2 linked regions of the Homo sapiens genome follow. The protein of the gene in region 2 purifies or fractionates together with the protein of the main gene of each other region. This does not show direct contact. Each region holds a gene or a part of one and is shown on either strand. Other genes may lie near its edges.

Evidence for each region.
Region 1: the proteins of OR2T33 (region 2) and ANKLE2 purify together in Homo sapiens (affinity purification with mass spectrometry; one large-scale study listed by BioGRID and IntAct). This does not show direct contact.

The regions. Positions count from the first base shown.
Region 1 is NC_000012.12:132,734,079-132,737,898, reverse strand, and holds part of ANKLE2 (ankyrin repeat and LEM domain-containing protein 2), read left to right. Parts: intron 1-678; coding exon of another isoform or gene 679-686; exon of another isoform or gene 687-823; intron 824-833; coding exon 834-1,006; intron 1,007-2,386; coding exon 2,387-2,493; intron 2,494-3,323; coding exon 3,324-3,514; intron 3,515-3,820. UniProt on the Homo sapiens protein: Involved in mitotic nuclear envelope reassembly by promoting dephosphorylation of BAF/BANF1 during mitotic exit.
Region 2 is NC_000001.11:248,274,987-248,279,468, reverse strand, and holds the start of OR2T33 (olfactory receptor 2T33), read left to right. Parts: upstream 1-1,492; 5' UTR 1,493-1,704; intron 1,705-4,482.

The sequences.
Region 1 (3,820 bases), on a different chromosome or scaffold from region 2:
CTGTGGTCCCAGCTACTCAAGAGGCTGAGGTGGGAGGATCCCTTGAGCCTGGGAGTTCGAGGCTGCAGTGAGCCATGATTGCACCACAGCACTCCAGCCTGGGTGACAGAATGAGACTCTGTCTGAAACTAAGAGGAGAAAAAAAGGAGAGAAGGAATAAAATATTACTTTTTTTTGTTTTTTTGAGACAGATTCTCACTCTGTCGCTCAGGCTGGAGTGCAGTGGCGTGATCTCGGCTCACTGCAACCTCCACCTCCCAGGTTCAAGTGATTCTCCTGCCTCAGCCTCATGAGTAGCTGGGGTTACAGGCACCCACCACCACACCCGGCTAATTTTTGTATTTTTAGTAGAGATGGGGTTTCATCATGTTGGCCAGGCTGGTCTTGAACTTCTGACCTCAGGTGATCCACACACCTCAGCCTTCCAAAGTGGTAGGATTACAGGCGTGAGCCACCGCACCCGGCTGGAATGAAATATAACATTTTTAAAATGTATTAAGCTCCTACTGTGTGCTACTCTTATTCACTCAGGTCCGACCCCTTAGTCCTTTAACTACCTGGGGCTTCCTTTTCTTTTCTTTCTTTTCTTGTAGCAGTGGAGGAAAATGAGGCTGGTTAAGTGAAGTGAGCTCTGAGACCTTGTGTGACTTTGTTTCCATTGTATCCATTTGCATTAAGTGCAGTGAGCTCTGGCGGAAACCACCCTCTGCCCCGTCTGTTGGATCCATTTGCAGAGGCCTTGGCAAGGGCTCGCGTGATCCCCGTCCTGCTCACCCAGGCCTGACCTGCGGAGGGGGCGGAAGCCTGCAGCCAGTGCCTGTCTCCTCCCTCAGGCCACTACTACGTGCCCCTCCTGAGAGCGGAAGAGACTTCTTCTCCAGTCATCGGGGAGCTGTGGTCCCCAGACCAGACGGCTGAGGCCTCTCACGTCAGCCGCTATGGAGGCAGCCCCAGAGACCCGGTACTGACCCTGAGAGCCTTCGCAGGGCCCCTGAGTCCAGCCAAGGTGAGCTGCTGTAGAAGCTTCTGGAAGTGGTGCCTGGCTGTCCCTATACTGTGCTGCTGGGTGTTCCAGCCTGTTGCCTTGTGCGTGGTCTCAGGGACCATGTCCTGTGGAGCCCCAAGGTTGTCCTCATCTCAAACCATCCACCAGTGATTGGTGATGAGAACGTTTGTCAGAGAAATGTGTGTTCTTGGCTCTGTGGCTTGCTTACCAGGGCCGATGTGCTGGGAGCCACTGTCTCAACAAAGCAGACATTCCCTGGGCCAGCCCCGTCCTGTGCGCGTGTCGCCCTGTTCTTGCTGTGTTGATGGCCCGTCCTAGGCACCTTGCTGGTGTAGCGAGGCTGCCCGTTGTGACTAGGAAAGCTCCATCTGCACGTCCACCTCCTGACCACGTTTCCCTGTGGCTGCAGCCCCCGCTGGCTTCCTCTCAGACAAGTCCCTCTCCTGGAAGCCTCAGCCCCAGGTTCTACTCATCCCCAGTGTTCAGAGAAATCCTTAATGGTGGTGTTGCTGGGTCAAAGGTTGTACACTTTTTTATTTACAGTTGACAATTCTTTCTCCTGTTGGAATACTTCACACACTGACCTGCACGCACCATCCTGTGCTAGAAACTTTCTAAATCAGTTGCGATGAAAACGGCTCCAGGCCGGGCGCCGGGACGCATGCCTGAAATCCCAGCACTTTGGGAGGCCGAGGCGGGTGGATCACGAGGTCAGGAGATCGAGACCATCCTGGCTAACACGGTGAAACCCGTCTCTACTAAAAATACAAAAAATTAGCCGGGCGTGGTGGTGGGCGCCTATAGTCCCAGCTACTCGGGAGGCTGAGGCAGGAGAATGGCCTGAACCCCGGAGGTGGAGCTTGCAGTGAGCCGAGATCGTACCACTGCACTCCAGCCTGGGCGACAGAGCGAGACTCCGTCTCCAAAACAAAAAAGAAAATGGCCCCAAAATTAGGTGGTATCAGGTAAGGTTAGGTGAGATGCATAAAGCATAAAGCTCTAGGGAGAGTGACTGAGAAAGATCTGGTTTCTTCTCCTGCGATGGGAGCAGTGTCACATGTGCGTCGGGGTGGCAGCTCCGAGCCGTCCACTGTCCTCAGGGTGAGGCCTCGTGCTCGGGCCCTCCTGGTTCTGAACCTCACAGCCCAGACGGGGCTGCAAGAAAGGAGACCGCCTCCCCTCCCCCAGGTCAGAGTGCAGCCGTGCGGCCACTCAGCCATGCCACAGGTGGGCACGTGGCCCAGGGATCTGCTAGTGAAGGGGAGAGAAGGAAGGGTGTGCGGAGACAGGCAGCTACTGCGATGACGACGGCTCTTCAGGTTTCCGCAGCTGAGGGGCGCAGTGCCTGACACGGCTCAATACATTTTTTTTTCTTCATAGGCAGAAGATTTTCGCAAGCTCTGGAAAACTCCACCTCGAGAGAAAGCAGGCTTCCTTCACCACGTCAAGAAGTCGGACCCGGAAAGAGGCTTTGAGAGAGTGGGAAGGTACTGAAAGGCTGAGCCGCAGCAGCGTGGGGCACACAGTTGGTTGCATTTTGATTAATGACAGAAGGTCAAATCACAGCTTCAAAGTACCAATTTCCAGAAGGCTTTTCTGGGAGACTTGGTCCTTTTCGTGAAGGTCTAATTCCTTGTGGATGTTGTGGAATTCTAGCTTAAGCCAGTCCCGTCCCAGACCTGGGGGATGTCTGCAGTGCCTTCCTTTCCTTTTCTAATTGGAATTCCTTGTTGGTTCTGGGACATGTTTCTAAGGAACCTTAATATTTTATAGAAGGTACCATATAATGCTATGGATTCCTTGGGAAAAAATAGGCCATAGCCACAAAGCTAAATTATGCTGTAATCAAATAAAGCTTCGTGGAATTGTTTAGAATATTTTCTCAAAATATGTGCCCAGTGTCAGGTGTACAACTGGAACCCAGAAAGGACCTCCAGGCTTTCGTGTGCCTGGCCATGACTAGAACCACGGGCAAGTTCACAGGGCTGTTCCGTGATCATGAACACGTCCGTCTGTGGGAGTTGAACTGTGTGACCTGGGTTGCTGGCGTGAGGGTCTGTCGGGCTGAGGCCTCCTTCCTGCCTGCAGCCGGTTCACGGCTCCTGAGAGCTGTGCCGGGTCCTGCTTACCTGTGAGGAGGCGTGCTGTTTCAGAAAATGCACCGTATGATTTCAGCTGCCAGTTAAGGATAAAGGAAAATTATAACCATGATTGCAGACATTGCTTTGGTACTTGAAGCTTTAGTGGCTTTTTTCTGTGTAGTTCTGAGTATTTTTTCTGGTTTCACAGCTGGTTAATTGTGTTTTGTTTCTTACAGGGAGCTAGCTCATGAGCTGGGGTATCCCTGGGTTGAATACTGGGAATTTCTGGGCTGTTTTGTTGATCTGTCTTCCCAGGAAGGCCTGCAAAGACTAGAAGAATATCTCACACAGCAGGAAATAGGCAAAAAGGCTCAACAAGAAACAGGAGAACGGGAAGCCTCCTGCCGAGATAAAGCCACCACGTCTGGTAAGCATGTGCAGGCGTGGCTGTGGCAGCTGGGAGGGGCCCCCCATGGCCGGGGTCTGACGGGATGCGCACATCTGTTTCTCGTCTCTTGGTGTTTTTAACGTAAAGGTCTGGTACTTTCCCTTAGGTTAGTATTTTTTGAGACGGAACCTCTCTTTGTTACCCAAGCTGGAGTGCAGTGGCGCAATCTTGGCTCACTGCAACCTCCACCTCCTGGGTTCAAGCGATTCTTCTGCCTCAGCCTCCTGAGTAGCTGGGACTACAGGCGCCCGCCACCACGCCTGGCTAATTTTCGTATTTTTTTTT
Region 2 (4,482 bases):
CATGCTTCATTCTAGCCAGTTATATAACCTGAAGCAGAGTGGTTGTGAGAACCTCCAACTTTGTATCCAAATCAGGTAGAAGTAACCTGGATACCCCCTACTTGAGACTGACGTCTGAAGGGAAGGCAGTCTTGTGGGATTGATTTCTGCGACATCTGGAGTCTGATGCTCCAGACTGCAGTAAGTGTCAGGACTAAATTAAATAGTAAGACACTTAGTTGGTGTGAGAGTTGGAGAAGTAGTATTGGAAAAGACACTGTGAATTTGATTTCAAAAGAAAAAAAAGTTTCGCTATTTTTGTTTTGTTTCCAATTATTATAAAACTGGTTTATGTCTTACTTGGCACGGACAGAAATTCTTTACATGTCTGCTTGACATAACAACGTCACAGATTCTGGACCGTAATTTATGGTAAATGGCAAATCAAACACAGAAGCATTCACCCAGAGCACTAAATAGTCTTTGGGCAGAACTATTAAACACCAAAAGAACAGGCTACCCTGTCCTTATCTTATTTTCTTTTAGATAAGTTTTTATAATATTTAGACCAGAATCAACATTACTCTGCCTTAGAGGGATTTTTTTTTCTTTCAGAACAATCACAATAATGATATCAATGAACATGGATAGAGAATATACTATGGGCCAGATAGTCTCCCAGGTGGTTTACAAGTATTTTATTTATTCCTTTCAATAATGCTACAAAGCAAGCAATTTTATTATGCATCTTTTATAGGAAAGGAACATGAAGATCATGTTATCCAAAAATCATGAAATGGGTAAGGAATAGAAGCTAGATTCAAAACAAAACACAAAAACATTTAAACATTTAAACATGCAAAGTTGGGAATTGATTAGTTTATAGGCTATCAAAGCATTGTGACCCAGTTCAAAATAGTTGAAATTCCCCTTCAGATTTTTTTATAAAAGGCAGTATTTCTCAAAGTGTAATCCATAAGTATTCTGAATGATTCAGATGTTCCTCAACCTTTAAGAACCACAAATCTATGATGTGAACATCAAAGTTCTTTCACTCTGCTACCTCATGACAGTTAATATAAATATGGTATTTAAAACCGTTAGCATTGTTTACATTGCTATATTAATGTAGAAGTTCACAGAACAAACAGCTAATTAAAAGATTAAATAACACGCATGTAAATGCATGTAAAATGCCGAGCATATTCACTAGCATGTAGAAATGTTCAATAAATGAAATATATTATTATTATCATGATACAATTACAGAAAATTAAAAACTTATTTCAGGTAATTAAGTCATATTTATTCAGTTCAGGGATTGTCAATGATCAGAATTCTGGATTTTGTCTTTACTAATTCATTGCACTTGCTATCCTTAGCCAGGGACATATCTGTTCATCTTCCCAATCACAGTCGTTTTGCTTTTACCAAAACTTGGATGCTAAATTAGTTCACTACATATATTCACCCTTAGGAAATACTGAAATCTGTATTCCCTTGCCAAAGGTGATTTACCTTTCCAAGTGGCATAGCTCCAGGGAAGATATTTGGTTGTTGGAAACTTTCAGTGACCACATAGGATTTTTAACTAAATAGAGCATGAGACCAGAGGCACAAAGCAGTATCCACAACACTAAGATTAAGCAAACATTTGTACTCAAACCATCAGAAAGATTCAGTCCCATATATATGTCACACTGGCTGTGATTCTCCACTACAAAGGTGAGTCTAATTTGTTTGAGAATTATTTTTCCTTTACTTTAGGCAGTAATTTCAAATTACTCATATTTATTATGTATTTGGCATTCTACATATGAATTTTGAATTGTAAAGTAACCTTTGTAAAGTTGAGGGACAAATCACACAAAGTAAATGTTTTCCTGTCATCCACGGGGTGTTTTGAATATGTAAGATGCAGTCTGTGTCTACCCAGAACCAAAAAGCCAAAAATTCTTGAATAAAGTTGTTAATTAAGTCAAATGATTGAATTTGTATTAGAGGATTCTTTTCTACTGAACAGTGTGGCTGTTTCAATATTTTCCCCATGTTATATCAATAGCTTGTGGACATACAGACACTGCCTTTGTGGAGGGTAGGATGTCAGAAAGAAGAGAAAATAAGATTGTTGAGTGGAACTCTATTGTTCCAGAACAGTGATCTGTGTCTGTTTTCAAGTAAGTATGAATGTGGGGAAGGGGATGATAATCAGTTTACCTACCAGCTTCAGAAAGGGCATGGTTTTGAAGTTAATAGACACAACATTCCTCACCTACATCTAAAGAAATTGCCTAGAAGAGCTAAGAAAGACAAATAGAAGTAAATATAAATATACATACTAGAAATATATATAAATATATGTAGAAAAATATATAAATATATATTTTATACATAAAATATAAAAATATTAGAATGTTTTAAGTCCAGCTATCCTATTTAATAGCTTAGAATTAATAACAGCCCATGAATTGACTTGAAGAAGAAATATTTATAAGCATCTGTTCACATTATTATAATTTGCTGAGTTAATATAGCCTTTAGTTGATGGATTAATGGTCCACTTGACAAATAAATATAGCTGTATATTTACAATGCCAAAAAATCCTTTATTCAAAAAATACATTGGATGGTAATTAGTAAAAACAGTCAAGCTGCAATAGCTCTGTATACCTGAAAGAAGAATTACTACAGTTAAACCAAATTTTCTATTAAATTATCTGACTGATACAATGTGCTGAAAAGTCTCATCTATAACAATATTATACATCATAATTTTTCACAGCTTAGGATGATGCTGGTTTATTTATTTTTGTTAACTTTTAATGTTAAAGAAAAAAACAATGGTTCCAAATTAAAGTGATGTTTACTCTTTACCTCTGTCTGTAGAGAAGAGAATTCAATTTTGAATAAGTATAACCATTCAGAATGAAAAAGTATAAGCATTTAGAGAATCTAAGAATTTTCAGATCTTAGACTTTCACCATCATGTCACCATAGCCTTCAGTTCAATAATCTAATTAATATTTTATGCTGTGATTGTCAAGCTTCTGAATACGTCAAAATATGGCACCATAAAATGAACTAAACTAATAAATTAAATTAAAAATTAAAATTTTGTTTTGGTGTGCAATATGACATTAAAAAAACTATTTTCAAACTCTGTTATATGCAAAAATCATGTAATTTCTTTTTAGTAATCTTTTTAGAAAGTTCAGTATTGATCTGTGGCCTGTTAGGACCTGGGCTGCATAGGAGGTGAGCGTCAGGTGAAGGAGCATTACCCACTGAGCTCTGCCTCCTTCAGATCAGCAGCAGCATTAGGTTCTCATAAGAGTGTGAGTCCTATTGTGAACTGCACGTGTGAGGGATCTATATCACATGCTTTTTATGAGAATCTAATGCCTGATGATCCGAGGTGAAACAGTATCATCCCGAAACCATCCCCTCTCCTACAACCCCCATCTGTGGAAAATGTTGGGGACCGCTGATTTAAAAACATATGAGTAAACAAAACAAAAGAAAACAAAAATGTTAAGTAACTTTCCCCTTATATCATAATATAAAATGACAGAAATGATTCTTTTTTCCCATGATTTAATGTTTACCTTTTTCTTAGCACAAATAAAAGTCATGTAACTTTTCAGGTAGAAAATGTTATTTCACATACTTCCTAAAATCATGACACATACCAGCAATGGTACACCTACTGTAATCTGGAAAAAGCTGACTAGACACAGGTGATTTTTTTTTTTTTGGTGCTTCTCTGCACACTCTATTTTATTATTCTATTTTATTTTACTCTGAGTTCTGGGATACATGTGCCAAACATGCAGGTTCATTACACAGGTATACACGCGCGATGGTGGTTTGGACAACAGTGATTTTTAAACAAGGACTTTTTAATATCAAGTCCTGCCCTCCTTTATCCATGCATTCTGCATTAATAAAAGGAGTCTGATGGTGGTTTAAAGTTATAATGGAGGCAGTGGAAGCCTGTGGTCAAGGAGTCAGTGGGCTGTGGCAATCACATGAGAAAGATACTTTAAATAGTATGTAAAATAAAGGGACTGCATACACTACATAGGAAGACAGTAATGCAACCAACAAGGCTTGGCACAGGCTTGGCACATGTAGTGTCTTTGCCTATTTTGCCTGTTTTATTGTCCTATAATCTTTGTTTATTTCCCTGATAGCCAATGCTTAAATAAGCCATCTCAAAGACGCTGGTGTTACTGTGTGTTTGTGTCTGCTCACATCTGAATGCTCATATAGTGGATGTAGTAATTTAACCAGTCATTGGCACTGCCTTTCTGAAGGCCCTGAATGAGACCATCTGTGTATGAGATGAGGTCTAAAATCCTGCAAATATACAAAGGCATGACATTTGCGAATATTCTATGAATAAAAGTGGGAAATTAGCTCTTTGCCTCTTTGTGCTCTTCTCTTTATGAGTTGACAAGTTCTCTTCTTTGTATGGAGTTTAAAAATGGTAAACACTAAAAA